Linked DNA regions of Homo sapiens. The protein of the gene in region 4 purifies or fractionates together with the protein of the main gene of each other region. This does not show direct contact. Each region holds a gene or a part of one and is shown on either strand. Other genes may lie near its edges.

Region 1 (7,033 bases), on a different chromosome or scaffold from region 4:
CCCGTCAGTGGTCTTCAGCCCTCGCCCGATCACTGTCTCCATGTTGCTGCCGTTCAGGTCTGCTCGCCTTGGGGAGAGCCCAGTGTTGGATGAGCAACCAGACTGACCCAGAATAGAGTAGAACTTTAACCCATGTTCCCATAACTGGACCCCACTGAACTGTAAGCTCCACAGGGATAGAGACCAGGTATCTATGAGTACATTCCTCAGCACCCAGCATGATAGATGTTCAATAAAATAATTGCAGAATGAAGGAACCAGTTCTTAGGAGGACACAGTATTTCCTGCTAACTGGACATAGTGGCGGTTGCCAGGGGATGTCTTGCTAGAAGACAAGTTTATCATTCCCCACATACCTTTGGGAAGAGACAAGGATTGCTAGGTGGTGATGATAAGAAACGCAGATTTGTCAAAACCAACCTGTGCATTTTTTAAAAGTTAAAAACAATTTTAAATACAAGTAGATATGAGGTTTCATTATGTTGCCTAGGCTGGTCTTGAACTCCTGGGCTCAAGCAATCTTCCCGCCTTGGCCTCCCAAAGTGCTGGGATTATAGGCGCGAGCTACCACGCCAGACCCTAATTGTGCACTTTTGCAAAGGCCCTATGGGCAGGAGGGAACTCTACCTCAGAATGGGGAGCATGTCACTGTCACCTAGGGGACTTCCCTAAACTGTATATGCCTACCTGTCCCCAGTTTGAGATTCTAATACATCCCTTGGGGAGAGCAAAGGGGAATGTTCCCTGTTCCTCCATGTGAGAATATCTGCCATGGTAAACCACTCTTACTGGTGGCAGGACATCATATTCCTAAGCTGTGTTAGGGCCACAAATTTAAAGACTAAAAATAAAACAACGAAAAAATAAAAAACAACAGCTTTGTAAACCACCATAAGACTTGGCATTTGATTGGGGCTCCTTTACTGCAATACAGATACTGGTTATATGGCCTACTCATCAGTAAGTCCTAGGGGATTCTTGGAGCTCCCTCAGGGCACAATGGTAGATGTGAAAGTCTCCAGGTCCCCTGACTTTACCTGTTTTTTTTGTTGTTGTTGTTTGTTTTACATACTAGGCTTCCATATAATCTCTAAACAAATGAAAGTTTGAAACTCTGCTGTAAGTGACAACACTACAAAGTGAACAAGTCAGGATTAAAACTCACTATCCAAAGTGCCAAATCACTCATCCATTTAGTGGTCAGAACACAACCTCACCCATGGGCGACCAGAAGCAAATCTGTGTCTTCTGGAGGTTTCAGTGTTGCTCATACCTGATAACATCCAGGAACACATCTGTGTAATAGACCTTTCCATCCACGCTGTCATAGTCCAGGGAGATGACATTGTTGAGCTCAGGAACAGGGACATGCACATCGGTGTGGTCACTGGTGTCCAGTGAGATACGCCGGATGGAGCCACGGCTGGAGAAGAGCAGGTAGGTCTCAGGAGAGGGATCACAGGTCTTCCCATCTCCCTTCAGCTGGATGCCAGTGGGGCAGGCACAGGAGAAGCCAGAAGGCCGAGGCAAGCAGAGGTGGGAGCAGCCGCCATTTCTCGAGCCGCACTTGTTAAAACCTGGTGATGAGAAGCACAAGTATTCACACCTAGCCTGGAACATCATCTGAATCTTACAAAGGTCCCAGTTGTTTGTGGCTGGCTCTTTGCTGTTCTAAGTGACAGGATTCAGTGCCTGGCAGGGTGAGGTAGAAGGAGGGTCTGCAGGAGGATCTCCAGGAGTCCTTTGAAGGTGACAGCTGTAGTACCAGCCATACCCAGAGAGAACACAGCCCAATCTGGAAGGGAGCTTAAACAGGTCACCGTCTTTCTGGCTGTAAAGGAGCTCTGTGCTCTGGATATATCTCTGATGTTGAGATGGCCCCAGAAAGCCAGAGGCTCTGACTCACAGCCCCAGCCCTCTGACTCTCACCTAGTGGCTGTGCCCGGTCCACAGCCTGCATGTCCATGAGGCCTGGCAGGTTGGACCTCACGAGGATGACATTGCTGCCAGTACCCTTGTCAGCACGGTGGATGCTCCGAGTCTGCCAGTCAGTCCAGTAGATATAGGAGTCGAGCAGGGTGAGGCCATATGGGTGCTGCACCGGTGACACCAATGTATGCCGATTGGCACCATTCAGGTCAGCAGCCTCAATTCGCTGCAGAGGAAGGAGAGGGTGGGGGGTGGTGATCAGCAGATTGGGAACTCTCCATGGAGATCCTAGGCAGGCCTTTCCCATCTTCCCAGGCTCCTGGGAAGCAGCAGGGACACGGCTCTCACCTCGGTGTGGGCATCGGCCCATAGCAGTTGGGAGCTGGCCTTGTCCACAGTCAGTCCATTGGGCCATCCTAGGTTGTTGTTGATGAGCACCGCGCGGTCTGAGCCATCCATTCCGGACCGCTCTAACTTGGCATTCTCCCCCCAGTCTGTCCAGTACATAAACCTGAGTGAGGAAGAATATTAGCTATATTAGCTAGTTATTCCAGCAGCTACCACATACCATGAATACTTAACAGTATGTCAGATACACTTGAGTACTTACAGTATGTCAGGCAAAATTTTTGCTTGACAAAGTACTTTGCAAAATACTTCATGTGCATTATCTCAACCTTCATAAGGGCCACAAGGTATGTATTTTCACTACCACCTCCATTTAATAGGTAAGGAAGCTGAGAATTAGAGAGGTTAAATACCGGACCCAAGTGATATAGCTAATACATGATGAAAACATTTCAATCCTGGTATTCTGATTCAAGGCTCATGCTTTTAACTTCTACACTGTACTGTCACCCTGCGAGAAGTCACAAGAGAGTGGAAGAGCCCCAGGGAGGTCACCTTGTTTCTGTGATGCAAGCTTCCTCTCCACTACCCACCTTTACCCCGTCATAACCCCAGCTGAGCTGGCCCCCCACACTACCCAGTGCGATACAGCCAGCTCTCACCCCATCTCATGGTACAGTACGATGGCCCGGGGACTGTCAAGGTTCTGCCACACCAACACTTTCCGCATGGACCCGTCCAGGTTGCCCACTTCAATCCGGTTTGTTCCCGTGTCTGTCCAGTATACTTTCCGGCCAATGGCATCAACCGCGAGCCCATCTGTGGTCTGTAGCCCTGTGGGAAGTCAAAAGAGCACACTGGCTCCTATTTTAAAACAGATGGGCTATTTCCCCAGCCCTGTTGCCAGACAGGTGGTCCCTGGGCTAGGAGGAAGGCCCACCTGTGGTGATGATGTCCTCATGCTGTGAGCCATCCAGATTGGCACGACTGATCCTGTGCAGTGTGCTGTCAGACCAGTACACCTTTCCTGGAGAGGGAAAGCTTGGCTCAACCTAGACCCTCACCGCCTACAATGGGACACACACAGCTGATTCATGTCTTGAAACACCAGAGCATGTCAGAGAGCTCTGGAGCCTCTAGCAGAGGAAATCAAGGAAAACGCAGAAATATCATAGCAGGATAGCTCTTGGCAGAGACGGAGAGAAGAGGGCCCCAAACCATGCTCTCACAACCAAAGAGAGAGTGCTAGAGAGACAGGGACAGGGGCTATGCCAGAGGGAATGGGGAACAAACACCCTGGCTCTTGGCAGGAGACAAAGGTGGTGGGAGAGGAAAGACAGTAATTGTTGAAGGGCAGGGACAGAAGGCCAGGTGGGAAGAGAGGGCCATACAGACCTTCCTGGGGGTCTACTCCAATGGCAATGGTGTTCTTCATGGTAATGTTGATTGGTACCACCACATCAGCAAAATAAGGGATGTCCAGGGAGACCATGCGAATGTCTATCCTCCTGGCGAAGATGAGGAAACTGTTCATGCCTGCCAGGTGGAGAGGAGGGAAGAGGATCACTCGAGCACAGCCATTAAATGGATTTGGAATCAGGCAAACTGAAACTCATGCCCTGTCCCTGCTAGTTTCTAGCTATGTTATTCTAGGCAAGTTATTTAAATTATTATTATTTTTTGAGACAGGGTCTTGCTGTGTCGCCCAGGCTGGAGTGCACTGGCATGATCATGGCTTACTGCAGCCTTGACCTCCTGAGCTCAAGCGATCCTCCCACCTCAGCCCCCTGAGTAGCTGGGACTACAGGCACACACCACCATGCCCAGCTAATTTTTGTATTTTTTTGTAGAGATGGGGTTTCGTCATATTGCCCAGGCTGGTCTGAAACTCCTGGGCTCAAGCCTCTGCCCACCTCAGCCTCCTAAAGTGCTGGGATTACAGGCATGAGCCACTACTCTCAGCTTAAATTATTAGGCCTCAGTTTTCTTATCTATAAAATGGGGACAATAATGGGGTGGCTGTAAGGGTTAAAAGATCATGTACATAAAGCACTTACCATTAGGTCTCACACATATTCATAAATAATGCCTCTTTATTAATATTATGAAAGTGGCTCTCTTTGAAGGACCCTTTACCATGAAGATTAAGAAAGAGAAAAAAAGAAAGGGAATAAAGGGACCCCAGGGGGCTTTACTCACAACCTGAGAGGCACAGTTCACAGCTCCTTTCTCACTCAAATTCCCAGGGAGGTTAGAGTTCAAATGCAGCCTACCCTGCAGCATCTCCTAGGGAGAAGCCTTGACTTCCGACATCTGGGTAGCCAGGTACTGCTTCTGGGACCCTCCAATAAGGTTGTCACATAGGTTGTGCACTCACAAAAGTGGCACATCTAAGGAGGAGGGTACTGTGACATTGTAGATATCATACATTTCTGTTTTTATTATACCAATTTTGGGCAGTTAGAAGTGTCTTTTTTTTTTTTTTTTTTTTTTTGAGACAGAGTCTCACTCTGTCACCCAGGCTGGAGTGCAGTGGCGTGATCTCTGCTCACTGCAACCTTCACCTCCCAGGTTCAAGCAATTCTTCTGCCTTAGCCTCCCAAGTAGCTGGGATTACGCGCCACCATGCCTGGCTAATTTTTGTATTTTCAGTAGAGACGAGGTTTCACCATGTTGGCCAGGTTGGTCTTGAACTCCTGACCTCTAGTGATTTGCCTGCCTTGGCCTCCCAAAGTGCTAGGATTACAGGCATGAGCCACCGTGCCCAGCCAGAAGTGTCTTATTCCAACCAAATCAGTATATTATGACAATGTACTAAGAGATGAGAGGAAAGTGTCTTGAGAAAGGAGCATCTTTATCTAATATGCATGAAGACATCATAAGAACTAGTTGGACCCTGCCTCCAGTCCTTTCTACTTGCTCCCCAGGGCCTCTCCCCAGGCCCGTCCCCTTTTCTAAAAGCCGTGAGTCTCTCCCCTGGGCCTCTAGAAGCAGCAGGACTCATGGTTTCTCAGACCACATTGGAGCCCATCTGCAAGGAAGGAAGAGAGCCATTGCCCCCTCCCAGAGAGGCTGCATCTAGATCTGTGATGCTTTCACTCACCTGGTGAGCAGGTCTTGCCATCAGACAGCAGGTTGATGCCTGTGGGGCAGGTACAGCTGAATCCGCTTGGATTTGGGGACCTAAGACACAGGTGGCTACAGCCGCCATTCTCCATAGCACATGGTGTAGACACTGGGTAGAGAGGAGGGGATGTTCAATGGGGAGAGCTAGGGCATAGGAGGGCCACGGAGAAGCCAATGCGAGCCAAGGGCTGCTCACCTGGGGGCCGGCGGCGGTGGAAGACATGGATGTCCATTAGGTTTTCCAGGTTCTCCTGCAGAGTCTCCCGGTCCAGCCCTGTCAGCCGGTCAGCGCTCTGTATGCTCTTGGTCTGCCAGTCAGTCCAATAGATGCGCTCTCCATAGAGGGTCAGCCCAAATGGGTGGGGGAGCTGGCTTCCAATCAGCACCTGCCAGGGCCCCAACACTGTGTCATCTTCAACAAAGTCTGACAGTACAGAGCAGTGGCAAAGAGCTCACTGTGGACTCAGAAAGCAGCTCTCCCACTAACACCTACTGGGTGACCTCCAGTAAGAGCTACTTATAAAATCTCTCTGAGCCTTGCTCTATCAATCTGTGACTTGATCATGCCTGGCTCTAAGGGTCGTGTGATGGTTTTATTGGAAGATGTTGGAAGTCATCTATTACTCACATCATCTCAAAGTATCTCTGGACAAATTACTTATTAAGTACAAAATTAAAAAATAGCAACTTTACAGTGGACACTACCTTAACCATACAATGGCAGTAAGTATCACAATAACGGAACAGGCCAACACCTGTGTCTACTGATGAGACACACTGAGAACTCAAGGACATGACTTCACTTAGTGTAGTATTCCTGCTGCAAATGCACACTCTGAATCCAATCACAAGGAAACATTAGATAAATCCAAGTTGAGAGACATTATAAAAAATAACTGGCCTTTACTCTTTAAAAATGCAAATGTCCACTTTGGGAGGTCCAGGTGGGCAGATCACCTGAGGTCAGGAGTTCGAGACTAGCCTGGCCAACATGGCGAAACCCTGTCTCTACTAAAAATACAAAAATTAGCTGGGCGTGGTAGCGGGTGCCTATAATCCCAGCTACTTGGGAGGCTGAGGCAGGAGAATTGCTTGAACCCGGGAGACAGAGATTGCAGTGAGCTGAGATCGCACCATTGCACGCCAGTCTGGGCGACAGAGCAAGACTCTTGTCTCAAAACAAAACAAACAAACAAAAAATGCAAATGTCAATAAAGTCACAGAAAAGCTGAGGAAATGTTCCAGATTAGAGAGTAAAGAGACTAGATTAGTTGGGCCCGGTGGCGCACAGCTCCAGCTACTCAGGAGCCTCAGATGGGAGGATCACCTGAGCCCAGGTCAGCATGGGCAACACACCAAGACTGCAGTCTCAAAAAAAAAAAAAAAAAAAGCTATGTGTGGTGGCTCATGCCTATAAACCCAACACTTTGGGAGGTCAAAGCAGGAGGATTGCTTGAGCCTAGGAGTTCAAGACTAGCCTAGACAACAAAGTGAGACCCCCATCTCTACAAAAAATAAAAAAATCAGCCGAGTGGCCTCAAACCCGTAGGCTCCTGAGTAGCTAGGGTGCAGTAGTAGGTGCCTGTGGTCCCAGCTACGTGGGAGGATCCCTTGGGCCAGGAGGTCGCAG
Region 2 (7,033 bases), on a different chromosome or scaffold from region 4:
CATCTATCCATCTATCCATCCATCCTCCGTCCATTCATCCATCATCCATCCATCCATTCACCCATCATCCATCCATCCATCATCCATCCATTCATCCATCATCCATCCATCCATCCATTCACCCATCATCCATTCATCCAGCCATCATCCGTCTATCCATCCATCATCCATTTATTCATCCATCATCCATCCATCCATCCATCATTCTTCATCCTTCCATGCATCATCCATTCATCCATCCATCATCTACCCATGCATCCATCCATCATCCATCCGTCTATTCATCCATCCATTCATCCATCCATCATCTATCCATCCATCCCATTATCCATTCACCCATCCATCCCTTCATTATCCATCCATCCATCCACATATCCATCTGTCATTAATCCCTCCACTGTCTATCCATCCATTCATCCAGACAGCCAGCCATTCATCTATCCATCCCCCATCCATCCATCCATCCTTCATCCATTCACCGTTTTTCTATCCATCCATTCATCCATCCATCCATCTGTCATCCATCATCCATCCTTCTGTCCATCATCCCCCTACCTGTCCTTCCCTCTTTTATCTCTCTGTCTACCCATTCTTCCATTCATTCAACAGAATCAGAGAACTCCAATTGAGTCTGGTGCCTTGATTGTGAATCTAGGCATGTGGCAGGCAGACCCCTGTCCCATACAGGGCATTTATGATGAACAGTGTCATCAGGACCCCTGCTCACATGTGCTCACTCCCCATGGAGAAGCCCTTGCCACTTGTGCCCCTTCATTTGGGAGAGTGAGCAGGGGACATAGCAGGGATGATGTGCAAGGCCACCAGCCCACCTGCAGGGTCAGAGCTGATCCCCTCTGTGGGGTGCTTCTGCAGGGTTGCCAGGGTAATTAGCATGTTAAAATGAACACGGGAGGGAGTGGATGCCCCAGTCCCAAGTCACCTACTGGCCACAGGCCTGGAACTAGAATGTCCCTCCTTGGTTCTGTGCCTCCCGAGTGCTGGAGAGCAGAGGGGTTGTCTGAGCAGTAGTCCAGGAAGGGGAGAAAGAGCCCTGAGTGTTGAAGATTCGAGTGCGCTTTCAGCAGCGCAGGAGCAGGCTTTGTGCACGGCTTCAGCTTTTGTCCTTTATTCTAGATGAGCAGTTCTCAAAACTTGTGGTCTTGGGAATCCTCTACACTCTAATTTACGTGGCGTTTTTAATGTTTATTTTCTTGCATATAACATTAGGATGGGCCAGGCACAGTGGCTCACGCCTGTAATCCCAGCACTTTGGCAGGCTGAGGCAGGCAGATCACCTGAGGTCAGGAGTTCAAGACCAGCCTGGCCAACATGGTGAAACCCTGTCTCTACTAAAAATACAAAAATTAGCTGGGCGCGATGGTGGGTGCCTGTAATCCCAGATGCTCGGGAGGCTGAGGCAGGAGAGTCGCTTGAACCCAGGAGGCGGAGGTTGCAGTAAGCTGAAATCACACCATTGCACTCCATCCTGGGCAACAACAGCAAAACTCTGTAAAAAAAACCAACCAACCAACCAAACAAACACAAAAACACATTTATCCTAATGTTTTTTATATATCCTTAGTCCCAATTGCTTTCTTTTCTATGCCTTTTTATTTCATTTTTTAAAAGGATTTTTTTCAAAATAATTATAGACACAGGAAGTTGCAAAAGCAGTACCAAGAATTTCTCGACTCTTAAAAATTATTGAAGGCCTTGGCTGGGTGCGGTGGCTCACGCTTGTAATCCTAGCACTTTGGGAGGCTGAAGTGGGCAGATCTCTTGAGGTCAGGAGTTTGAGACCAGCCTGGCCAACCAGCCTAGTTTCTTTAGTAGAGAAACCCCACATGCCTGTAGTCCCAGCCACTCGGGAGGCTGAGGCAGGAGAATCACTTGAACCCGGAAGGCAGAGGTTACAGTGAGCCAAGATTGCACCTCTGCACTCCAGTCTGGATGACAGAGAGTCCATCTCAAAAAAATAAAAATTACTGAAGGCCTTAGAGAGCTTTTGTGGATTACATCTGTTGATATTTATCACATTAGAAATAAAAGCTGAAATGTTTTAAATGAACAGTTCATGTTAACATAAGTAACATTACACTTATGAAAAATAACTATTTTCTCAAACAAAAAATTTTAGTTAAGAATCTTATTGGCTTCCATTTTTGCAAATCTCTGTAATGTCTGGCTTGACAGAAAACAGATGGACTCTTGTAGCGGTTTTCTGCATTCACTTGTTTTTTCGTTTGTTTGTTTGTTTTTCTTTTTTAGCCTCCCAGGGCTTCCTCGCTATGTGATGCCTTGTTTTATTGAAGTTTATGAAGAAAACTGGGCAACACAGTGAGATCCCATCTCTACAAAAAATAAAAAACTTAGCCGGGCGTGGTAGCACATGCCCGTAGTCCCAGCTACTCAAGAGGCTGAGGTGGGAGGATTGCTTGAACCCAGGAGGTTGAGGCTGCAGTGAGCTAGGATCACACCACTGCACTCCAGTCTGGATGACAGAGAAAGACCCTGTCTCAAAAAAACAAAAAAAAAGTTTTCACTCAGTGTCTCCCTGAAAAGTCATTGGGAACCCCTGGGGGTCTACATTTCAAGAACCATTCCTCTGGATCGGGGTTTCTCAGTCTTGGCCTTGTTCCCGTGTGGCTGGCCGTCCTGTGCACGGGAGGATTTTAGCAGTATCCCCATAGCCTTTACCCACTAGATGCCAGAATTCCACCCCCCACCTGGTAGTTGTGGCAACCAAAAATATCTCCAGATACTTCCAAATGCCTCCCCTACTCCCACCCCCAACAGGGACAAAACCGTCTCTGGTTGGGAACTACTGCTGTGAGATCTTAGGTGACAACTAAGTTTCATCTTGTTGGGGCTGATTTAGAAGCCACATCCAGTTTCACAGAACGGTGCATCAGGATTGATTAGCAGGCTGGCCGCGGTGGCTTGTGCCTGTAATCCCAGCACTTTGGGAGGCCGAGGCAGCTGGATCACCTGAGGTCAGGGGTTCAAGACCAACCTGGCCAACATGGTGAAACCCCGTCTCTACCAAAAATACAAAAATTAGCAAGCCATGGTGGCATGCGCCTGTAATCCCAGCTACTCAAGAGGCTGAGGCAGGGGAGTTGCTTGAACCTGGGAGACGGAGGTTGCAGTGAGTTGAGACTGAGCCACTGCACTCCAACCTGGGCAACAGAGCAAGACTTCGACTCAAAAAAAAAAAAAAAAAGAGAGCTATTGATTAGCAATGTCTGCCATGAGTGCAGGAGGGAGAGTAACAGTGCAGTGTGCTGGGATTGATGAATGATGTCTACTACAGATGCAGAAGAAGAAGCACCAGGTACAGCGGGGGTGGCCCCGTATAGGTCTCAGCTAGCTGAGGCCCCTGGGGCTCTGTATGCCAGATGGCCCCTGTCCTTGCCTACTTCTTCCTTCTGGGCTCCTCTTCCCGTAGGTGTTCATTGAGGATGTCAGCAGGGAGTTTGTGGAGGAGTTCATCTGGCCGGCCATCCAGTCCAGCGCACTGTATGAGGACCGCTACCTCCTGGGCACCTCTCTTGCCAGGCCCTGCATCGCCCGCAAACAAGTGGAAATCGCCCAGCGGGAGGGGGCCAAGTATGTGTCCCACGGCGCCACAGGAAAGGTGAGGCACCTGGGAAGGGCCGGGCAGAGGGAGATGGAGGCGGAGGGGTGTGGGAAGGAGATGAGCACCCCTCGAGCGGTTTCCTGGTGTGCCTCCGGGGCAGACTTGGTGCAAGGCAGCTACATGGCTTTGTTTAGACCCCAATGAGAGGGGTAACAGCTCGCCCCTGCGCTCTGTGCACTGTGGCACCTGAACGCCCATTCTGAGTCCTCACCTCCACCTTCTGCTGTGGGAGCGATGTCACCCCATTTGGCAGACTTGCTGCTGAGGCCTGGGGACATTGTCCAAGGTCGCATTGGCCAAGGTCACTGCGTGAGTCCCCCAGGGGACACGCAGGAAAGTGTTGAAAACCCTGAGTTGGCAGAGTAGGGTTCAAAGGCAGCTCTGCTGCTGGCTTGCCGTGTGTCCTCAGCCAGGGCCCTTCTCCCCTTCCTGAACCTCAGTTTCTTCATTTGCAAGATGGGGCTCATGCCATGTCTTAGTTTCCCAGGGCGAGGGTAACAAAATGTCTCAAACTGGTGGCTTAGAACACAGAACTGTTCTGCCTCATGGTTCTGGAGGCCTGAGGTCCATAGTGAGGGCATGGGCAGGGCCACGCAGCCTCTGAAGGTGCCAGGAAGCCTCCGGCTCAGGCCTCTCTCCAGCTTCCAGTGGCCTCTGGTGTCCCTTAGCGTGTGGCTGCGTCACTCCTGTCCTTCCGTCCTCCATCTTCCCAAGCTGTCTTCTTCCTGTATCTCTGCATTGTCTTCCCTCTGCTTGTCTGTTTACCTTCCCCTTGCTACAGGAACCCGTCTTGGATTAGGGCCCTTCAATGACCTCATCTTAACTTGGTTACTTTTTGTGTGTGTGTGTGGGGGAGAGGGACAAAGTCTCACTCTGACGCCCAGGCTGGAGTGCAGTGGCTCGATCTTGGCTCACTGCAACCTCTGCCTCCCAGATTGAAGCAATTCTCCTGCCTCAGCCTCCTGAGTAGCTGGGATTACAGGTGTGTACCCCACCACACCCGGCTAATTTTTTGTATTTTTAGTAGAGACGGGGTTTCGCCATGTTGGGCAGGCTGGTCTTGAACTCCTGACCTCAAATGATCCACCAGCCTTGGCCTCCCAAAGCACTGGGATTACAGGCGTGGGCCACCATGCCCAGCCTTAACTTGGTTATTTCTGTTAAGACCACATGAGGCCACATTCGGAGGGACTGGGGTTAGGACTTGAACCCATTATTTTGTGGAAACACAAATCAACCCATCCCGTACCCCTTCCCTCCGGGCCGTGTGTCCCAGTGCAGACTGCGGGGTCCCCGTGGGGTGCAAGACAGGAAGCCCCCTGCCTGCTGCTCTTCGGAAGGCAGTCCTTGAGAAACCAGATTCCTGACAATGTTGGCAACTGTCAGCCGATGTTTTTATAAAGACCCAAGTCATGAGCTCTCAGTCAGCGGACAGCATGCCAAGAGCCTGGTACAGGAATTGACTGTTTACCAACCCCACAGTCAGAAGGCTCGGAAACTCCCCAGTGACGGGGAGCTCACTACCTCGCCTGCCCGGGCTGGTCAGGGTGCTGATGGTGGGAAGTCCTGGCTCACTGTGGGAGGTCCTGGCTCACTGTGGTGCAGGGACACACACAGCTAAGATGATGATGGAGGAGACGCGGTTGATTTGAGGGTGGCCTGGGAGACAGCCACCCACCAGGATGGCACCTGTCATGTCTTTGAAAGTCCAAGTGTTCATTTCTTCACCGGAGCACTGGTTCAGCAAGCTTGCACTGGGTATCTGCTGGGAGTTGGGTGCTTGCTGGCATTGGCACAGTGCTAACTTCTTGGGCTCATTGCGTACCTTCAGAGAGCCCATTTCCTGGCAAGAGAAGAGAAAATGGATGTGTGATGAGGAATGGGAGTGGGGCCAGGGGTCTGTGCCAGGGAACTGCGGGAGCAGCAGGCAGGGGCTGAGGATGAGTCTAGAGGAGTGAATAATGGCATGGAAGAGTGTGAGAGGCAGAGGGAACAGCCTGTGGAAAGGCTTAGAGCCAAGAGGCCCTGAAGGACAGTCTGTCTGGGGCTGTGGAGCAGGAGCTATTGCTGTGGGGGAGGCAATAGGGCCAGGACTGGGCTGAGGCCATGCTGGGAGGTTTGGCTTCATCCTGAGGGCAACTGATTAGTGGGTGGAAGGAGGTCTCAGGTTGGATGGAGGTGGCCAGTGACTACCCCAGCGAGATGCTGGGGAAGAGACAGGGGAGAGCTTCTCACAGACTGCGGCCTTGGTTTTTACTGTCACTCCAGCTGTGGATGATGGGATGGTAGGAAACCAGGCAAGGAGGTTTGGGCGGGCCTGAGCTGTTGGGCAGGACCGTGTGTATGCTGCCATCTGTGCAAAGGTGGTGGCAGAGGAGGAGAACCCAGAGGATCAGGACTGGGCGACACAGCGAGACTCTGTCCCAAACAAAAAAAAAAGCTCCCGACCCATCTGCCTTAATGGAAAGAGCTGGATCGTGAGCTTCCTATCCCAGAAGGCATACAAGCCGAGGGCAGGGGATCAGAATTCTGGGAGGGGTCCTGCCCTCAGGTCTTTCCAACGGTACCATTAAGGTTCAGTAGGGCGGCATTCAGGTCTGGTGGAGTGCATGGGTGGGTGGGTGAGTATGGGTGGGTCGGCTCTGGCTCAGGCAGTTCCCGGGTCCATGCGGAGACCCCCACCCCGGACCAGCCCACATTTAGCCTGCAACAGCCTCCCGCAGCCGTGTGCGCCCCTCCTCCATGTGGCCACCAGAGGGCGCCAGAGGCTTGGGTTTGAGGCCTTGGGGGCCGACAAAGGCGGGAGGAGGTGGCGGCACCACCGGGGTCCTCTGTTCCCCATCCTGGACCTGCAGGGCGTGGTTCTGAGGAGAACGCCCCCCAAGCTAGTGCTATGGCCGCTCGGGACTTGGGGGCGTCCCTGCATTCACACTCAGAAGACCCAACAGGGACGGACTCCGGGGATGCCGGGGAGTAGGTGCTACCTGGCACAGCCACCTCTTTCCTGGGGTTGACAGGCAAGGCGTACTTCTGCGCCTCAGTGTCCCTTTATGACAGTACCCAGGAAACCCCCAACAGCCTCTGGAGACAATTTCCGAGAACTGGGGGTATGAGTGGAGAACCAGGAAGGCTGGGAGCGAGGGGAATCCAAGGCCTTGGAGGTGCTGGTCCAGCCTTCAGGCATTTACCCCCTGAGTAACCACCCAGCACCACCATCCCATGAGTATCCACCCAGCACTGCCCCGGGCGCCATCACGGGGGACGGGCCAGGTGGAGGCTTTCGGGTCTTTGGGCTCAGGGAAGGTGACAGTGAAATGTTGGGGGGACAACGGATTGGCCTGGGATGTGAGGGGGAAGGGCATCCTGTTTGCTGGAACCGCCTGAGCCCAGCCC
Region 3 (3,983 bases), on a different chromosome or scaffold from region 4:
TTGATGGAATTTTACTGTATGTGCCTCTGTACAAGATGTAGCTTTGAGAGCTACAAAATGATAACACTGCTTTATTACACACTGGTTTCATTGTCATTGCAAAAACTTACCCTGGTTGTGGGGGAGAGTTCTAGATCTGTGCCATGATCCATACACTGGCTAATAGAGTACATAATTTTTCCATTTTCCATTTTTTGTTTTTACTTACTACTGAAGGATCTCAGATGTAAAATTATGTATTTGGTTTGAGATGGCCACTTATTGTCCTTAAAAATCCATACTGATATATGCAGTCATTTTGAATTGGACAGTGCCTTCTCTTTTTTTTTCTCCTCTTCTTCCATCTCCCTCACCCATGCCCCCACCCAATCTAAAGAGACAGTGCTGTACATTCTCATAGAGATAGAGAAGATCTAAAAAGTTGAGACTACTCAATCCAGTTAACAACAGCAGGAGCACTAGAGTTTGTTCATTTATTCTCTCTGTAAAACAAGCTGTGCTTTTTTTCTTCTGCCTTTAAAATGCCACCCGTGTATTCAAACCATGGCCACTTGATACTTATGTAGAATCCATCGTGGGCTGATGCAAGCCCTTTATTTAGGCTTAGTGTTGTGGGCACCAATGTCGAGCATCGTTGTGACTTGTGCTGTATGATTCTCACTGAAGAATTTCCTTTCAGCCAAGAAGCAGTGAGGTCTGGGAATATTCCAAAGTCATGTCTCTGAATATGTGTCCTTGACGTGCAAGCTTTGTAAAACCCCATCCCCGCTTAGGTGCGAGGCATCACCTTCTCACAAGTGTTTAGTTTCTTTTAACCACAAGTATCATTCTTGGGTGATAATATAGTTTCATTCTACTTAGGGATTGTTTAGAAAACAAAGAAAGAGCCAATTAAATTTTTTAGTTTTTGAAATTTTTATTTATATGTATACTTAGATGAGTATTTTAAGCTGTCGACCTTTAGTTTGCCATACGGGTAGGACTGTATTTCATGTTAACAACTGGTGGTAATGATAAGCCTTCTTCTAGCGTATTTTCTCTTCTTTCCTGTCACTTTCCTAAGTTTTTTTTTTTAAAGACTGGAATTTTTTTTGGCTTTATCTTGTCTTACCGTAGAGATTTGTTCAAAACTCTAAGCCCTACCACCTCCCCTTTAATAAGCTCTTTAAATAGTTGAATCATTAACAACCTGGTGGGAGGCAAGTCATTTAATTGAACCACTAGGAAGTGTATTTTCTTTTCTTTTTCTGCCAACTTTTTGGTGGCATTTGTAAAAGCTGATATAAAAGGCTCTGAGATGTTATTTTCAGTTATTCCATAGGCAAGCCTTTTTACAGAGCATATGTCTCCAGTTGGCAGCTTGAGATATTTCCGAGCATCCGGTTCTAGCTACCAGTGCCTCCCAATGCTTAGTGCACAGTACTGTAGACTGGCCATCACCCCTCTCCTTGGAAAATGCCACTGTGCTGTTTGAAAAAAAGCAGCCTTTTAGGGCTAGAGTATTTTATATAAACAGAAGAGCTAAGTTCCTGAAGACTAAGCTAGATAGCTGCAGCTATATGTAAATTGTATATTTTTATGAACTTTTGAAGCACACACTCCTGTTTCCCTCTGTGTAGCTTTGTGGGGATTTCATGTATATATGCTGTCTGAAAGAATCCAGAGGTTGGAGTGCCAATAGAAAATGAAAACAAATGCCTTGTACTACAGGCAGCCTCTGAAGGTGACCACATAACTGTCTTCACTGTGACCAATCGGAGTCCCTGCTTGCTTGTGAAGAAGGGGCTTTTGTACCTTGTTGGAGATGCCACCTCAGAAGTTCACACTGTGCAGGAAAAAGGTTTTATTCTCTCCTGGCATACATTAGAATGTCAGATGCTTGCATCCATGTGGACCACGATGGGCCTCTAAAAATTGGTGGGCAGGGGGTTTGCTTATGAGTTTTCTCTGGAAACCGATTTTACTCCTGGATGTATTGAATGCCCCTTGAGCTTTATGAGATACGAGTCCACATGGATAAAATGTTAGAGAGTGGAGTTCTACAGAGGATTCCAGGAAGAGGCCATGTCTGTGCAGTCCTAGTTCCAGACAGGTGAGAAGCTCCAGGAACTACTGGCTACCTTGACAAGCTGGGTAAATAGTTATCATTCTGGGTAACTGGTTGAAACTCTGACTTTTGGACAAGTAATTCCTGGGGTTCTGTCTTTGGTAGCATCACCAGGGATATTTGGGTGGGACAGACAGAAGACACACAGCTGCCTGTTCTCTCCTGCCCATCATGTTTGGCCCACTAGATGAAGCTGTACTCAGCAATTTAGGGAATGTAACCCTTCTCAGAACTGGCCATTTTCAGGGGAAGCTTGGGAGAGCAATAGTATGGTGAGCCCCTTAGAGATGAGCGCCTACTCCTTCTTGGCGAATGCTGCCTTCAGATGCTTACCAAGTGGTCACTGCATCTAGTAAGATTATATTTCCAGTACACTTCCTTAGGGCAGAAACACCATCCTATCAGGTTTGGTCAGTCCCTTCTTCATGAAGGGAGTCATGGGGAATTCCTGAAAATTTTCTTCCTTCTGCAGACAGTTGGATGAGTCCCTTAGAGAAGGCATCCAGAGACATAACTAAACTGAATATCATCCCATATTGATTTTAGGAATTGACTCTAAAACTCTGTGCAGAATCTTGTGTTGGGATTGTATCTTGACATTCCTGTTGTGTTATTTTTCTTAACTGGAGTGTGTGCTGCCTTTCAGGTACAATTTTTGTGTAATAAAAGCCAGTGCATTAAGTTTATATAGACTACTTTCTATGCAAGACTGAGATATGGAATAGATAGGAAGAGATATGTACTGCTGGGTACATGGACAGTAAGTGTGTTTTCAGATGGAGTACCAGCACCGAAAATGGGTTGAGGGAGGATGGGTTGTATGTATGTTTCTGCCCACTAATTTTGAGCAGCCATATTATGAATTAAATCGTCACAGCCAAGTAATAACCCAAGAATGGTATGAGTTTCATGTGTAATAGCTCAAATGGAATAAGCATGAATGCTGGAGTGGACCATTATCCTCAAATATTCTATGTCACTTCTCATTTAAAGACTCTTGTTATGAACTATTAGAAACTTTAGGCAAAATCAAAAGTATTTGCGGCAAAATAAAGGCCTATTCTACTCTTATTTAAAGTGAAACACTGTATACTTGTTTCTCTCCAAAGCGAAATTAAGTATTTATAATTTCAATTGCCTCGATAAGTTTCCAAGTCACTGAAATCTGCTGAAGGTTTTACTGTATTGTTGCACAACTTTAAGATAATTTTTGTCTCAATGTCAACTTTTTTCACTGAATAAAAATTTAACTGGGTCAAGAAAACACCTCTTTGAAAATCCACTGTCTCTGTGTGTCTCGAGCTGTTCTTTAGAGCGCAATAAAGATGGCTGACGCAGTCTCCAAACCCCATTTGATTGGTCTGTTTTAAACGGATGTTTATTTCATAGATGAGAGAACACCAAGGCCTGGAATAATTTTGTTATTAACAAGCTGGTCTCAGATGGTGGATCCTTGAAGAACACGATGTCTTTGTGTTGGTTGAGGAGGGGGAAGATGTGCTGGCTGTTTTGAAGTAAACAGAATTATTCCGTAGGGACAATGACTAAAGTGGCTCCCTTAAATTTGTAACTACATTTGCTAAGAGACAGTTTGCTAAGAAGGCAATTTTCAAATCTAAGAGACGGAAGCACAGCAGTATAGATGAGCTGTGTGTCTAAGAGCACTTCTATGGGTTTCCATAGACAGTCTTGTGAGGAGTGCTGCGTGTACCTATTATGGGCAGCTGAATGGCCATGGGCCTGTAAGTCAGGATTGGAGGCTGTGGAACTGGGTGGGGGAGGGAGGCAGGTTTTTAAGAATTTAACAGGTCTTCTGGTATGCTGCTTTTGTTTAGACACTGAGCCAGAGCCAAACCCTGAAGTATTATCATCTGGT
Region 4 (7,768 bases):
CGAGGGTGGTTTCAGAGCCATCGGGGCAAGGGAATTCTTGCTCAGCTGGCTTTACAGCATTCTTGCTAACACAGCAAAGGTGGGGGATGAGAAACTCTGTCAGATAGTAAGAATGATCAGATGTCAAGAGTTGGGGGATTCTTGCTAAACTGACTTATCAAGACTCTTTGCAAAGACTGGGCTGGGCAGGACAGAATGAGGGCCAAGGTCAATGCCTAGTGAAAACGAGGGCTCAGAACGGCCTGACTAAAGTTTGGTCAAGGAGGTAGTCTTATCACTCTCCGCTACTCAGCGCATTCTCGTCTCGTTCAGAGTGAAATCCACTGACACAGAACCCATTAAGAACCTCCACGTTCTGCCCCCTTGCCTAGGATCTCCTACTGTTCTCTCCCTTTTCTTTCTGCTTCAGCAACAGTGTCCTTATTGTTCCTTCAACAAGCCAGGCATGCTCCCACCTCAGGGTATTCGAATCCGCTTTTCATTCTGCCAGAAAGACTTCCCACAGATACTTAAATTGGCCCATCCCTCATCTTCTGCAGGTCTTTCTTCAAATGTCACCCTCTCAATGAAATGTTTCTTAACCACTTTGTGTAAAATTGCAAACTCTCCCACCCTCCATGTTCCTGTTCCCTTTTTAAATTCTTGTTTGCACTTACAGGGAAGTTTAAATTTTTCCCCTGAAGTTTCGATAATTTGAGTCTATAAAACAAAATGATACATAGCTGAATAGGAAAAAAAGGCATACAAATTTTATTAAAGTTCATACAAGCACAGGAGTGATACAACATACAAAAACTCAAAGAAAGGCAAGGTAGTTGATATTTTTATACCATCTTGAAGTTACAGGAAGAACAGGGGCTTGGATCACGGCTAAGGCGGGTTATAGGAGGGAGAGAAGAGGAAAGACCTGAAGAAAAGGTAGACTCATTATGCAAATGAAGCTGCACAGGTAGCAGCCTAAGAGCAAATGGTAGCCCGTGGTTAAAGTTTGCACCAGATTTTCAAAGGTGTCAGACTCTCAGTTAGTCTTTCTCAGATCTGGACGAGGGGAGAGCCTCAGAGAAAGCCTATTCACATCTGTTGTTGACTGCACTTCATTTCCTCAACAGATGCAAGTCTCCTCTACAAAAGACAGCTTTTCAGGACTATTCCTGTCTGCAAGCTCTCTGAATAGCCATCTCAAGATATGTCAGGGAAGTATGTTTTGGAGTGAATTATTTTGGTTGCCTTCACACTCATCTCTATCTCAAAACGTATTTATTCCTCTTATTATCTTTCCTCTCTCTCTTCCAGTAAAATTCAAGCTGCATTTGTGCACAGGTTTTGCCAGTTTTGCCCACTGGTGTATTTCCAGAATCTGGCACAATGCTAGGCACAGGATAAGTGTTCAACATAATTTTTGTTGTTGCTGAATGAATCAATAATGAAATCCTATACAGTAATGAAAAGGAATGAACTTTGCATGTATCAAGGTAGACTAATCTAAAAGTGTTTGTGTTGAACACATATATACACATGATACATATATGCATGTATATACACATGATATATATACATATATACACATATAGGCATATACACATATATATGCAGAAATCTTTATATAAAGGGTATCTGCTATATACATACATATTGTATATTGTATAAAAGTTGAATACAATGTACAATTGAAACTATACAATTGTATATTGTATGTATATAGCAGATTACCTTTATATACATACATATTGTATATTGTATGTATATAGCAGGTTGTCTTTTTATAAAGATTTAAAATGTTGCAAAAGTAAACAATGTTTAGGGACACATGCATGTGGAGTAATTATCAAACAAAACAAAGGAATGCTGAAAGCAACTCAGGAAAATGACTTGGGAGCACTGTGAACAAGGCTTCCAAATTTTGGGTAAATTTCTCTTTGGTAACCCAAGTGTTGGGTATGTGGGTATTTGTTTTATTATTATTAAACCATGGGCCTCGCACAGTGGCTCATGCCTCTAATCCCAGCACTTTGGGAGGCTGAGGTGGGCAGATCACGAGGTCAAGAGATCAAGACCATCCTGATCAACATGGTGAAACCCCATCTCTACTAAAAATACAAAAATTAGCTGGGCATGGTGGTACGTGCCTGTAGTCCCAGCTACTCAGGAGGCTGAGGCAGGAGACTGCTTGAACCTAGGAGGTAGAGGTTGCAGTGAGCCAAGGTCGCGCCACTGTACTCCAGCCTGGCGACAGAGTGAGACTCCATCTCAAAATAAATAAATAAATAAATAAATAAAAACAAAAATCTGTGCCTATGAATACATTATCTCCTGTGTATGGTACACATTAAAAGAATTTAAAATAACATAACTATCTTGTGGTTTTGATTTGCATTTCTCTGATGATTAGTAATGTTGAACATTTTTCATATACCTGTTGGCCATTTGAATGTCTTTTTGAGAAATGTCTATTCAGGTCCTTTGCCTATTTTTTTTTTTTTTTTTTTTTTTGAGGCAGGGTCTCACTCTGTCACCCTGGCTGGAGTGCAGTGGTGCTATTTTTGCTCACTGCAGCCTCAACCTCTGGGTTCAAGCAATCCTCTGCGCTCAGCCTCCTGAGTAGCTGGGACTACAGGCCTGCACTGGCATGCCTGGCTAATTTCGTTTATTTTTTGTAAAGACAAGGTCTCACTATGTTGCTGAGGCTGCTCTGGAACCCCTGGGCACGAGTGATCCATCCACTTCCGCCTCCCAAAGTGCCGGGATTACAGGCATGAGTCATTGTGCCCAGCCCTTTGCCCATTTTTAATGGGACTCTTTGTATACTGTTGTGGTTTTTTTTGTTTTGTTTTTTCTTTGAGATGGCATCTCGCTCTGTCACCCAGGCTGGAGTGCAGTGGCATGATCTGAGCTCACTGCAACCTCCACCTCCCAGGTTCAAGGAATTCTCCTGCTTCAGCCTCCCAAGTAGCTGGGGTTTCAGGCATGCACCACCACGCCTGGCTATTTTTGCATTTTTAGTAGAGACGGGGTTTCGCCACATTGGCCTGGCTGGTCACAAACCTGTTATTTGAATTCTTTGTATATACTGGGTATTAGTCCTTTGTTGGATGAGTAATTTATAAATATTTTCTCTCAAGTTGTTGCTTCACTCTGTTGTTTCTTTTGCTGTGCAGACACTTTTTAGATTAATATAGTTGTTTATTTTTCTTTTTGTTGCCTGTGCTTTTGAGGTCTTAGCCACAGACCTCAAAAGCACAGGCAAGAAAAAGAAAAATCTTTGCCTAGATCAATGTCCTGAAGAGTTGTCCCGATGTTTCCTTCTATCAGTTTTATAGTTTGGAGTCTTTAAATCTTTAATCTATCTGGAGTTGACTTTTATATATGTTGAGAGAGAAGGGGTCCAAGTTCATTCTTCTGCATATTATTATCCAGTTTTCCCCAGAACCATTTATTAAAGACGTAGTCCTTTCCTCATTGTGTGTTCTTGGCACCTTTGTTGAAAATCAGTTGGCTGTAAATGGGTGCACTGATTTCTGGGTTCTCTTATTCTGTTCCATGGGGGGGTGTGTGTGTCTATTTTTATACAAATATCATGCTCTTTTGGTTACTAACACTTTCTAATTAGATATAAGCTCACTCCAGTTAGAATGATTATTATTATAAAGACAAAAAAATGACAGATGCCAGTGAGGATTTGGGGAAAAGGGAACTCTTATACACTATTGGTGGGAATGTAAATTAGTACAGCCACTATGGAAAACAGTGTGGAGGTTTCTCAAAAAACTAAAAATGGAACTACCATACAATCCAGCAACCCTACTACTGGTAAAGGGAGAGAAATCAGTATATGAAAAGGATACCTGCACTCACGTTTGTCACTGCACTATTTGCAGTAGCCAAGATATAGACTCAACCTACCAGCAATAGATGAATGGGTAAAGAAAATGTCATACATAGACACAATGGAATACTATTCTGCCATAAAAATGAATGAAATAATGTATTCACAGCAACATGGATGGAGCCGAAGGTCATTATGTTAAGTGAAATAAGCCAGGCACAGAAAGACAAGTACTGCATGTTCTCACTTATATTCGGGAGTTAAAACACTTGATCTCATGGACATAGACAACAGGAGGATAGATACCAAAGGCCAGGAAGGCCAGAAAGGAAGGGGAATGAAGAGAGGTTGGTTATGGGTACAAACATACAGTTAGATGGAAGAAATAATTTCTAATATTTAATAGCAGACTAGGGTGACTATACTTGGCAATAATATTGTGTATATTTCAAAGTAAATCGAAGAGAGGGCTTGAAATGATACCAACGCATAAAAATGATAAATGCTTAAGGTGATGGATACCCCAAATACTGTGACTTGATGATCATTACAGTCTATGCACGTAACAAGCACTCACATGGACCCTATACATTATGTAAATTATTTTGTATCAACAGAAAAGTAATCACAACCAGCGGTGGGAGCTACAGCACACTGATCCTCCTAAATGAATCTAATTTCCGGTTTTGTTTTTTCAAACTACTCCGCTTGCTTAACAAGTGCGCGGGCTGTAGGCAGCACGGCCAGCAGCTGGAGACCTCCTGCCTCGTGTGCGGCGTGCGTACTCCCTCGCACTGCAGCCCCTCCGCGCACTGTCGCCTTTGAGAGCTCTCGTTGGCGGAGGCGGTTCCTCTCCCGGAGTTCGCAGCGCGCACCGCGGCGTCCCCTGGGAAGTGTAGTCGGCGTGGGGCCGGAGGCATGCCGGGAGTGGTAGTTCTCCCGCGGTTGGCGGGGTTTCGGGGACAGCTCGCGGCCTTTCGGGGGTTCTCCTGGCTTGGGCCATCCAGGCTTGGCTAGGATTGCCGGCCTGGGGTTGAGGCGCTCGCAGTGGTCTCTTCCGGGCCGGGGTGGATCCGGGCCTCTCCAGCGAGTGGGCGGCGTGCAGCCTCGTCTGGGCTTCTGGGACCAGCCCTACGCGGCTCGGGCCCCTTGGCCACTGGGTCCCGGGGCGCCGTCCGCGAGCGGCCTGGACTGCCGGAGACCCGCGGGAGGGAGCGCCTCGCCAGGTGAGCTGGGTGCGCCGGGCCGCTGGGGTGGGGATGCCAGCCTTTTGTCGTTGTTCATTCTGCGATTTTCTTCTGTGCATTTTCTTCTGAGTAACGGAAATAATAAAAGCAATAGCTGATGCCCGCCGAGAGCGCTCGGGTGCCAGGCACCAGACTAGCGCATCGCCCGAACGAACTCCGCGCATCCCTGCTAACAGATAGGGTGGCGGTACGCTGTTCCCGCTCTGTCAGGAGGAGACCGAGGCAGAGTGGCGAGGTCATTGCCCCAGATGTAACTGGGGCCTGGGGCTAGGATCAGGATTGCCTTCCCGGCCCTTATGACTTTGGGCAGGTCACGACCTCCTGGTTTTCAGTCTCCGTAACATCTGTAAATGTGAAGATTGAAAATACTGCGTGGAAAACACTCACCGCTTCCTGGGAGGAGGTGCGCTTCGTCGCGTAACCGAGGCCTTGTGTGGCAGCTTCCCCTGGGCTGGTCGAGGCACCCGCTGGAACTGGCCTGGCAGAGCCCCAGGTTGGCTCCATGCTAGGGGGCACCCTGAGTCGCCGCTGCAGATCGCGGGCCTGGAGGCCCTCACACTTGCCCGGCTGCCCCAGGCAGCCTCTTCCCTTGCTTTCTGTGGGGCGGGCACGGTTTCCACCTCTCCCACCTGGGGTTGGTGTTTGGGCAGCGACGGCTGTTTCTGGTTGTGGGTGCCATTAGAGGCGGCACCTGTGGAGTATTAGGAGGGACAGCAAAGCTCTGGCTTTGGGTGGGGACAGTGCCTTAATCCTGTTACCTTGGGTAAAGTGTGGTAAGGCCCGACGAAGATCTAGTAAAGAGGCTGGGAAAGCTGAGTGGTTGGATTATGCTCACAGTTTCTTGGGGAGAACACAGCACTCCACGGAAGGACCACTCAGGGCGAGCAGTGGGGTCTGTCACCAGGGTAGGGATGCGGGGAAGCCTCTTTATCGTGGCTACCATAGGGAGGAAAGGGTGAGGCAGGGCAGGCAGGATGAGGATCAGCTAGCTAGGCTGGGAAGTGGCGCCCCAGGAGACTGGATATTCATTGCGACTTTTAGGTGTGCAGTTCAAAGCTAGCGAAGGACTCCAGACATCCATGGGGGAGTCACGGTTTGCCTAGAGGTAGCTGAGAGGCCCGAAGGTGGAAGTTAAAGAGTCCAAGTGCAGAAATAGAAGTAGGGTTGGCACATTGCCCTAGTAAACTAGTAAACACTCTTCTTGCTTTACATCATTACGGGGGGTGGCTTTTTTGAGACCTGATGGACATTATGGGCGGTTGTAACTTCCTCTCTCCAAGCCATCTCCTGACGCCAGGGTTCCTCTTGACACCTTTTTCCTCTGCAGACCCACCGTGTCCACACTCTGCTCTCCCTGGGCAGGAAGACTGAGGAGGAAGGGATGGCTGTGGATCTGCTGTCTGCTCAGGTGAGAGTGAGTGAAGGTTGTCTTTTTCATCAGTTGGCTTCTGGATTCAGAGATGGTAGACATGTTTCCAGACTTTGTCCAGGTACTTTTTGGTCCAACCAAAACGATGAAGAATCCGGAACCTCAAAAGTTTTTCCCAGTGTCTTGGGCTTAGCAAGGGGCTGCTGAGGAATGTGCCTCTTTTGTCCCGAGACTACTCTTAATTCACCCCGCTCACTCTGTGATCCACATTTGAGGCAGTTCTGAGCATATGCTTCCCACTACACTGGTGCTGGGTGGGGAGAATGGGGCATGAAGCAGTCTCTGTCTTCATAGAGGATATAGTCACACTTGGGGCTAAGATGTGGAAGGGCCGGAAGACAGCCTCCACAAGCATTTATTGAGCCCTATGTACAGGATCCTGTGCAGCACACGGGATGGAAAGAGGAAAGCTGTCATTTCCATCTTCTGGGAGTTCGTGGTATCGATCTTAGGAAACATGATTAAATGTTCAGGGGAAATATCCCAGAAGTGGGGGCATTCTGAGTTTATACTGGAGGCCAGGACTGATATTGGTGCTTAGAGAAGACTAAGGGCATCCCAGAAGGAGTTCAGCGTGGTTTGGGCTTTGAAGCCCAGAAGGAGGCAGGCCTGGGGCCTTCCCCTCCCAGTGCAGCGGGGATGTTAAGCTGTCCAAATGTCCATCTCACCTGTCTGATTGATTCCTCTATTTCCTTCTCTGATTCTTTTCTTTTTTCTCTGCTAGTTTAGCCTCTCTACCTGGGCTCTTTTTTCTTGTTCTTTCCCCATTTAAGATCCATTTTCATTACTTTAACCCTCAGCGTTCTGAGTATCTTCCCCAAATCTGTCCTCAGGCCTGACCTTTTTCCTAGCATTCCTGTCTGTCATTCCGACGTGGAAGTCCCATCTTTCCTTCAACACCAGCTCCCTTTCCTCTAGTCCCCTCCCTTCTGTGCATTTTTTCTGCCATACTCCAAAGCCTATTCTTCATTGACTCCTTTTCCAATAGCCCATAGGCTGGAAATGTGGACTCAGGAGCTTGACTTCATGGCTTCAAATCCAAGCTAGGGATGTAGCCCTGAGCAAGTTATTTTATCTCTCTGTACCCCATTTCCTCAATTTTGGTGGGGTTAATAATATACATACATGACTGAGTTGCTATGAGCATTAGTAACAGTAGTAGCTGGGCACAGTAGCTCACGCCTATAATCCCAGCACTTTTGGGAGGCCAAGACAGAAGGATTGCTTGAGCCCAGAAGTTTGAGACCAACCTGAGCAACATAGTGAGGC

The links.
Region 1: the proteins of ZNF354C (region 4) and LRP4 purify together in Homo sapiens (affinity purification with mass spectrometry; 2 studies listed by BioGRID and IntAct, with this or other methods). This does not show direct contact.
Region 2: the proteins of ZNF354C (region 4) and ASS1 purify together in Homo sapiens (affinity purification with mass spectrometry; 2 studies listed by BioGRID and IntAct, with this or other methods). This does not show direct contact.
Region 3: the proteins of ZNF354C (region 4) and SORL1 purify together in Homo sapiens (affinity purification with mass spectrometry; 2 studies listed by BioGRID and IntAct, with this or other methods). This does not show direct contact.

Annotation. Positions count from the first base shown.
Region 1 is NC_000011.10:46,873,527-46,880,559, forward strand, and holds part of LRP4 (low-density lipoprotein receptor-related protein 4 precursor), read right to left. Parts: intron 5,790-7,033; coding exon 5,600-5,789; intron 5,513-5,599; coding exon 5,381-5,512; intron 3,814-5,380; coding exon 3,673-3,813; intron 3,305-3,672; coding exon 3,218-3,304; intron 3,112-3,217; coding exon 2,940-3,111; intron 2,441-2,939; coding exon 2,278-2,440; intron 2,156-2,277; coding exon 1,930-2,155; intron 1,578-1,929; coding exon 1,274-1,577; intron 891-1,273; exon of another isoform or gene 68-890; coding exon 1-67. UniProt on the Homo sapiens protein: Mediates SOST-dependent inhibition of bone formation. Functions as a specific facilitator of SOST-mediated inhibition of Wnt signaling.
Region 2 is NC_000009.12:130,454,953-130,461,985, forward strand, and holds part of ASS1 (argininosuccinate synthase), read left to right. Parts: intron 1-3,448; coding exon 3,449-3,637; intron 3,638-7,033. UniProt on the Homo sapiens protein: One of the enzymes of the urea cycle, the metabolic pathway transforming neurotoxic amonia produced by protein catabolism into inocuous urea in the liver of ureotelic animals.
Region 3 is NC_000011.10:121,630,306-121,634,288, forward strand, and holds the end of SORL1 (sortilin-related receptor preproprotein), read left to right. Parts: 3' UTR 1-3,458; downstream 3,459-3,983. UniProt on the Homo sapiens protein: Sorting receptor that directs several proteins to their correct location within the cell. Along with AP-1 complex, involved Golgi apparatus - endosome sorting.
Region 4 is NC_000005.10:179,055,618-179,063,385, forward strand, and holds the start of ZNF354C (zinc finger protein 354C), read left to right. Parts: upstream 1-4,755; 5' UTR 4,756-5,049; exon of another isoform or gene 5,050-5,473; intron 5,474-6,397; 5' UTR 6,398-6,451; coding exon 6,452-6,478; intron 6,479-7,768. UniProt on the Homo sapiens protein: Transcriptional repressor that inhibits endothelial angiogenic sprouting. Suppresses osteogenic effects of RUNX2 and may be involved in osteoblastic differentiation.